Linked DNA regions of Homo sapiens. The protein of the gene in region 1 purifies or fractionates together with the protein of each later gene. This does not show direct contact. Each region holds a gene or a part of one and is shown on either strand. Other genes may lie near its edges.

Region 1 (3,819 bases):
AAAGAGCCTCGTCCCCCATCCTATACCATCAGTATAGTTGGACTCTCTGGGACTGAAAAAGACAAAGGTAACTGTGGAGTTGGAAAGTCTTGTTTGTGCAATAGATTTGTACGCTCAAAAGCAGATGAATATTATCCAGAGCATACTTCTGTGCTTAGCACCATTGACTTTGGAGGACGAGTAGTAAACAATGATCACTTTTTGTACTGGGGTGACATAATACAAAATAGTGAAGATGGAGTAGAATGCAAAATTCATGTCATTGAACAAACAGAGTTCATTGATGACCAGACTTTCTTGCCTCATCGGAGTACGAATTTGCAACCATATATAAAACGTGCAGCTGCATCTAAATTGCAGTCAGCAGAAAAACTAATGTACATTTGCACTGATCAGCTAGGCTTAGAACAAGACTTTGAACAGAAGCAAATGCCTGAAGGGAAGCTCAACGTAGATGGATTTTTATTATGCATTGATGTAAGTCAAGGATGCAATAGGAAGTTTGATGATCAACTTAAATTTGTGAATAACCTTTTTGTCCAGTTATCAAAATCAAAAAAACCTGTAATAATAGCAGCAACTAAATGTGATGAATGCGTGGATCATTATCTTAGAGAAGTTCAGGCATTTGCTTCAAATAAAAAGAACCTTCTTGTAGTGGAAACATCAGCACGATTTAATGTCAACATTGAAACATGTTTTACTGCACTGGTACAAATGTTGGATAAAACTCGTAGCAAGCCTAAAATTATTCCCTATTTGGATGCTTATAAAACACAGAGACAACTTGTTGTCACAGCAACAGATAAGTTTGAAAAACTTGTGCAGACTGTGAGAGATTATCATGCAACTTGGAAAACTGTTAGTAATAAATTAAAAAATCATCCTGATTATGAAGAATACATCAACTTAGAGGGAACAAGAAAGGCCAGAAATACATTCTCAAAACATATAGAACAACTTAAACAGGAACATATAAGAAAAAGGAGAGAAGAGTATATAAATACTTTACCAAGAGCTTTTAACACTCTTTTGCCAAATCTAGAAGAGATTGAACATTTGAATTGGTCAGAAGCTTTGAAGTTAATGGAAAAGAGAGCAGATTTCCAGTTATGTTTTGTGGTGCTAGAAAAAACTCCTTGGGATGAAACTGACCATATAGACAAAATTAATGATAGGCGGATTCCATTTGACCTCCTGAGCACTTTAGAAGCTGAAAAAGTCTATCAGAACCATGTACAGCATCTGATATCCGAGAAGAGGAGGGTGGAAATGAAGGAAAAATTCAAAAAGACTTTGGAAAAAATTCAATTCATTTCACCAGGGCAGCCATGGGAGGAAGTTATGTGCTTTGTTATGGAGGATGAAGCCTACAAATATATCACTGAGGCTGATAGCAAAGAGGTATATGGTAGGCATCAGCGAGAAATAGTTGAAAAAGCCAAAGAAGAGTTTCAAGAAATGCTTTTTGAGCATTCTGAACTTTTTTATGATTTAGATCTTAATGCAACACCTAGTTCAGATAAAATGAGTGAAATTCATACAGTTCTGAGTGAAGAACCTAGATATAAAGCTTTACAGAAACTTGCACCTGATAGGGAATCCCTTCTACTTAAGCATATAGGATTTGTTTATCATCCCACTAAAGAAACATGTCTTAGTGGCCAAAATTGTACAGACATTAAAGTGGAGCAGTTACTTGCTAGTAGTCTTTTACAGTTGGATCATGGCCGCTTAAGATTATATCACGATAGTACCAATATAGATAAAGTTAACCTTTTTATTTTAGGGAAGGATGGCCTTGCCCAAGAACTAGCAAATGAGATAAGGACACAATCCACTGATGATGAGTATGCCTTAGATGGAAAAATTTATGAACTTGATCTTCGGCCGGTTGATGCCAAATCGCCTTACTTTTTGAGTCAGTTATGGACTGCCGCCTTTAAACCACATGGGTGCTTCTGTGTATTTAATTCCATTGAGTCATTGAGTTTTATTGGGGAATTTATTGGGAAAATAAGAACTGAAGCTTCTCAGATCAGAAAAGATAAATACATGGCTAATCTTCCATTTACATTAATTCTGGCTAATCAGAGAGATTCCATTAGTAAGAATCTACCAATTCTCAGGCACCAAGGGCAGCAGTTGGCAAACAAGTTGCAATGTCCTTTTGTAGATGTACCTGCTGGTACATATCCTCGTAAATTTAATGAAACCCAAATAAAGCAAGCTCTCAGAGGAGTATTGGAATCAGTTAAACACAATTTGGATGTGGTGAGCCCAATTCCTGCCAATAAGGACTTATCAGAAGCTGACTTGAGAATTGTCATGTGCGCCATGTGTGGAGATCCATTTAGTGTGGATCTTATTCTTTCACCCTTCCTTGATTCTCATTCTTGCAGTGCTGCTCAAGCTGGACAGAATAATTCCCTAATGCTTGATAAAATCATTGGTGAAAAAAGGAGGCGAATACAGATCACAATATTATCATACCACTCTTCAATTGGAGTAAGAAAAGATGAACTAGTTCATGGGTATATATTAGTTTACTCTGCAAAACGGAAAGCTTCGATGGGAATGCTTCGAGCATTTCTATCAGAAGTTCAAGACACCATTCCTGTACAGCTGGTGGCAGTTACTGACAGCCAAGCAGATTTTTTTGAAAATGAGGCTATCAAAGAGTTAATGACTGAAGGAGAACACATTGCAACTGAGATCACTGCTAAATTTACAGCACTGTATTCTTTATCTCAGTATCATCGGCAAACTGAGGTCTTTACTCTGTTTTTTAGTGATGTTCTAGAGAAAAAAAATATGATAGAAAATTCTTATTTGTCTGATAATACAAGGGAATCAACCCATCAAAGTGAAGATGTTTTTCTACCATCTCCCAGAGACTGTTTTCCCTATAATAACTACCCTGATTCAGATGATGACACAGAAGCACCACCTCCTTATAGTCCAATTGGGGATGATGTACAGTTGCTTCCAACACCTAGTGACCGTTCCAGATATAGATTAGATTTGGAAGGAAATGAGTATCCTATTCATAGTACCCCAAACTGTCATGACCATGAACGCAACCATAAAGTGCCTCCACCTATTAAACCTAAACCAGTTGTACCTAAGACAAATGTGAAAAAACTCGATCCAAACCTTTTAAAAACAATTGAAGCTGGTATTGGTAAAAATCCAAGAAAGCAGACTTCCCGGGTGCCTTTGGCACATCCTGAAGATATGGATCCTTCAGATAACTATGCGGAACCCATTGATACAATTTTCAAACAGAAGGGCTATTCTGATGAGATTTATGTTGTCCCAGATGATAGTCAAAATCGTATTAAAATTCGAAACTCATTTGTAAATAACACCCAAGGAGATGAAGAAAATGGGTTTTCTGATAGAACCTCAAAAAGTCATGGGGAACGGAGGCCTTCAAAATACAAATATAAATCTAAAACCTTGTTTAGTAAAGCCAAGTCATACTATAGAAGAACACATTCAGATGCCAGTGATGATGAGGCTTTCACCACTTCTAAAACAAAAAGAAAAGGAAGACATCGTGGAAGTGAAGAAGATCCACTTCTTTCTCCTGTTGAAACTTGGAAAGGTGGTATTGATAATCCTGCAATCACTTCTGACCAGGAGTTAGATGATAAGAAGATGAAGAAGAAAACCCACAAAGTGAAAGAAGATAAAAAGGTAAGGTTAACTTAAGGTCAGTGATGTTTATAAAAATGCTTGTTGTTACTTTTTTAAAATACTGACATCAGTGTTAGAATTTAGTCTCATTCATTCCATACATAATAATTAGTAGCC
Region 2 (4,333 bases), on another chromosome or scaffold:
GACATGGGGTTACCTAAGTGAGAGTCCCAGGCACACTGACAGGCCTATCACTGACCCTCAGAAAGGATAATGTCCTCCCCACTGCCTAAAATCACTCACAGAATATTACAATGGAAAGGGGGGCTCAGTCATCACCTCATCCTAAATGAATAAACCAAACAATTCAGTCATGTTATAACCTGTACAGAATTCCTATATTATAAAAAATTTAATAAGTATTACTACAGGATCTCAAAGCCTTATCAATGTCAAATACAAATGAACAGCTGCAGTGGAAAAAACCCTTTGTACTGCTGCAACAGGGGACTCCTTCCCTCACTAACATCAGGGCAAAAGGAGGCCCTCGAGGCCCTCCTCCACAAATTTCTCCAAATTGGTAGGAAGTAAGTGTAAGGGGTTTCCCTCCTTGCTATGTGATTATAGGTTGACAAACAAAGACACAAATCTGTGCTCCAAGTTAGTCATAAAAATCAAAGCTGAAACTCAAACATTTTCTCACAGGAAAATGATAATGGTTATATTTTCAAGCTAGCCCTCATAGCAATCAAATGATGCAGCAAAAATGCCGTTTTAATTGACTATTTTTCTCATAAGTATAATGTATAAGCTACTTTATAAAGTGGATTTTATGAAAAGTTCTAGAAGTGTAGCCCTAACATCCTTATGAAAAAAAATGTGTCCTGAGTTTTAAACAATTTACACAAAAACTTTTAGATCATAACTAAGGAAGGGACAGTGGAAGACTGTGAGATAAATAGAGAGTTGCTTGGTTTGGTAGAAAAGGCATCTAAGTTATGCTAAACCACAGCTGCTATGAAAATGTCTTCAGTGTAACTGTCTCTCTCATTTAGCAAGCATTAAGCTCTGCCCTGAGCCCAATGCTGTGGCCCTCCAAAGGGAATAACAATTTTTCTAAAGCTAAAAACACAATCCTAGGAATGCAAGAATTTCGTTGCATCTTGCTGGGAAAATCACACACCAAATCCTAGTGCTTTGAGATTCACATGTACCTATCTTGATTACCTTGCACTGGCTCTGTCTCAGAACACACTTAGTGTTATTAGTCTAAATACTAAGGGAAAAGAAGAAACTATTAAGCATTCAGCACGTTCTCATTTCACTTTCACAATCCTGTAAGATAGGTAAACATTATCCCCAATTTATACATTAATAAAATGACGTTAAATGATGTTAAATTACTTGCCCACACCACCAGTAAAGAGAAGCTAGGACTCTGAATTCCACTTTGTCCACTATTCAAGGGCTCCTCCCCCCACGCCCCCACCCCCGCCAAAATAGGGCTCCTCCCCCCTCCAAAAAAATCAATCATGGGGTGCCACTGGAGAGTTGACCACTCACATCAATTATTTGTTATTCTAGTTCAGCAGTTCTGGGAGCGAGTTATGGAGAAGATAAACCACCAACTCCTCACTTCACAGAATCAACTCAGTATTCAGGGAATACTCTAAGAGAAGGGGTAAAATGTCCCTAGAGGTGAATCCCAGCTCTTCGCATCATTTCTCAATTCCTTCTCAATAGAGACTCTAGGACCAGAGCTCCCTTTATCACCTCCATCCTAACATACCTAATTGTTTCAGAAAGTTACCTTTTAAAACAAGATCTTCTACCAGAATAGAAGACCTCTCTGCTGGTCCTCGAATTTAAATAAATTCAATTTTCACACGATAACCTGCCTGATAGCATTCCAAAACATTCGTTACCACTGCAGTTTCAAGTTATTTTGTAGTGAATTGTGAACTAAATCTTGATTAAATTGCGGTAAAGATGGGAAACAAAAATCTATGTTTAGACAGGTTTCCTATCTAAAATTTTCCATTACGAGCTTAGGAAAAACAAAACCTGTACACTCAACATTTTAAATCTGTTTCTAACTGAACAAGATGATAGGTGATGCAATGAGGCTTAACTCTATCATGTAATTGCCACAAAACACTAACATTGTAAAACATTCAATACTTTAAATTACTGAATATTCTTTTTAAAGAAGTTGAATATTGTAAGAATTATTTAGCTTCTGGAGTTTAACACTTACAACATTAAAAAAAGGTTTCTAAGAGGAATAAGGTCTCATCTGAAAACAGGGTTTAAAAAAAAAACCGTATAAACATTGATACATGTCCAAAAACATTTCCCATCGTAAGGTATTATTTCTAATACTAAAGGCAAAACAAATTAAAACAGATCAAACATTTGCAGTCAAATGTCCAAATTTTTGAACTGGGAAAATGATGTCAACGTTTTTCATCCGTTTTCTTGTAAGGTTCCAGATCAAAAATAAACAGCCATCGGGCTCATCAATTCAGGTGCGGAAACTCATTAAAATCGAGCTTTTGGAGGGGAGAAAACATATTCCCAGAATTTGGTTTATCGGGTAAAATTGCCCCGTGGCCCACACCAGAAACCTCGGGCAACTGCCCGGGCCTTGCCCACCCCTCCCGCGGGCCGCACCTGCCAAGGCCGCACCGCCAGCGCCCCCTGCCGCCCTCTCTGCACAGAGACCCGCGCCCACCCCCGCACCCGCACCCGCACCCGCACCTGCCCCCACCCCGCGCTCGCCCCGCGCCGAGGCCGCGCAGCCTGCGGGCAGTGGCGGGGGCACGAGGATGCGAATCCAGGCGGGGCCGGGAGCTGGGCGCGTCCCCCAGAACCCCCGCCACGGCCAGGCCTGAGCCTCACCTACCTACGCCGTATTTCTCCTCCTCCGTGGGGGTCCACATGGCCGTGCCGGGCGCGGCCCCGCGGGCGCGGCGACCGGGCGACAACGCGGCGGGGACGGCCGCGGGCCCGGCTGTGGCGCACCGCGAGTCGAGGCGGGGACGGTCAGGCGGCGCGGGGCAGTGGGCGGCGCATCCCTCACAGGCCGTCCGGGATGCCGCCGCCACCCCCGCCACGTCTGGACCGCGAGGCTCCGCGGGTGGCCCAGCAGCCCCTGGCGGCGCGGGCGAAGGCTCGCCACCTGTCCGTCGCCGCTGCTCCCGTGCCGCCGCTTGCTTCTTCACAGCTCCGCCGCCCGGCTCCCGGCGCCGCCGCGGCTCGGCTCGCCCCAGCGGGCTCGCAGGACGCCCGCGCATGCGCCACTCCCTGCCGCGCAGGGGCTCGCGCTGCCCGGGCTCGCGCCGTCCCGAGCCCGCGCGCGAATCCACGCGCCGCTGCTGCGCGCCAGCGGAGGGAAATCCGCGAGAAGCTATTGGACTGCCCGGCCCCGGACCGGCTTCTAGAATCGCTGGTCCGGGGCCCTCAGCTGCAGCAAACCCCGGAGGGGGCGAAGCCGGTCAGGTGGGCGACTCCCTCTACCCGGACTCCCCACTCGCTTCCGCTTCCAGTGCCTCCTGCCTGCGCCCCGAGATGGCCACAGGCCTCCTGGTCGGAGAGGGGAGATCCAGAAAAGGAGGACACGACACCATTTTCAGACCCATCCCAGTGTCACCCACAGTGCTGTCGGAAAGGTCCCCGGAGCCACCCTGTGCATTCCCAGGGCCCGCAGGATGGAGTCGCCACGAGGGAACCAGGTGGGGTGCACTCGTGCCCCTCTCTCCTGGATCCCCTGTGGGCTGAGGCCGCTGACACCTCCTGGGTTCTTGCTTCTCTGAGATGGCCTGAGTGGTGAATGTTTGGGGCCAGAACAATCAACAGCCGCCTTGCTAGTAAGGAAGAGCTTCATTGGGCCCTTCGTGTTCCTACCCAGGACACGGCATCTGCTGCTCCTGGGTGTCTGCCTCCCTTGGAGCCCTAAGAACTGGCTCCTACCGGAAACTTTCCTCCTCTCTCTCCTCCCTAAGAATCCATTCATTCTGATGCCTGTAAATGTCACCTTGTGACCCCCAAGTCAACCACTTACCAAAGAACAGGAACTGCAGGACTTCTCCTTTCCACCTACATTTGGACCACATGCTCTAATCCCAGCAGATTTGCCCATCTCTGTCACTAGCACTACTAAGTCAAAACCCTGGTGTCATCCTTCACTAGCACTCTCAGACACCACCACTCTTCAAAGCCCAGCTCAGCCCCTCACCTCCAGGAAGCCTGCCCTGACCCATAGTCTCCTTTCCTTCTTTGTCTGGAATTGGAGCTATGTTCGGTTTGTCTTATTTCCCTTATAAGACTGTCAGCTCCCAGAAGGCAAGCTCCAGGCTAAAATCAACTTTCTAAACCCTCACCACCAACCCAGCACCTGTTGTATAGTTGTTGCATGGGAAGCCAGACTAATAGAAGAATATCTTGCAATCAACAGATCTTGTTGATTCTTCGTTCAAAGTGTCATGATTGGTAACTCCTCCCAGGCCTGACTGTGCTCCCCTGGGTTATGGCCACC

The links.
Region 2: the proteins of ARHGAP5 (region 1) and DOCK3 purify together in Homo sapiens (affinity purification with western blotting; one study listed by BioGRID and IntAct). This does not show direct contact.

The regions. Positions count from the first base shown.
Region 1 is NC_000014.9:32,090,685-32,094,503, forward strand, and holds part of ARHGAP5 (rho GTPase-activating protein 5), read left to right. Parts: coding exon 1-3,702; intron 3,703-3,819. UniProt on the Homo sapiens protein: GTPase-activating protein for Rho family members.
Region 2 is NC_000003.12:50,673,669-50,678,001, reverse strand, and holds the start of DOCK3 (dedicator of cytokinesis protein 3), read right to left. Parts: upstream 3,076-4,333; 5' UTR 2,739-3,075; coding exon 2,702-2,738; intron 1-2,701. UniProt on the Homo sapiens protein: Potential guanine nucleotide exchange factor (GEF). GEF proteins activate some small GTPases by exchanging bound GDP for free GTP.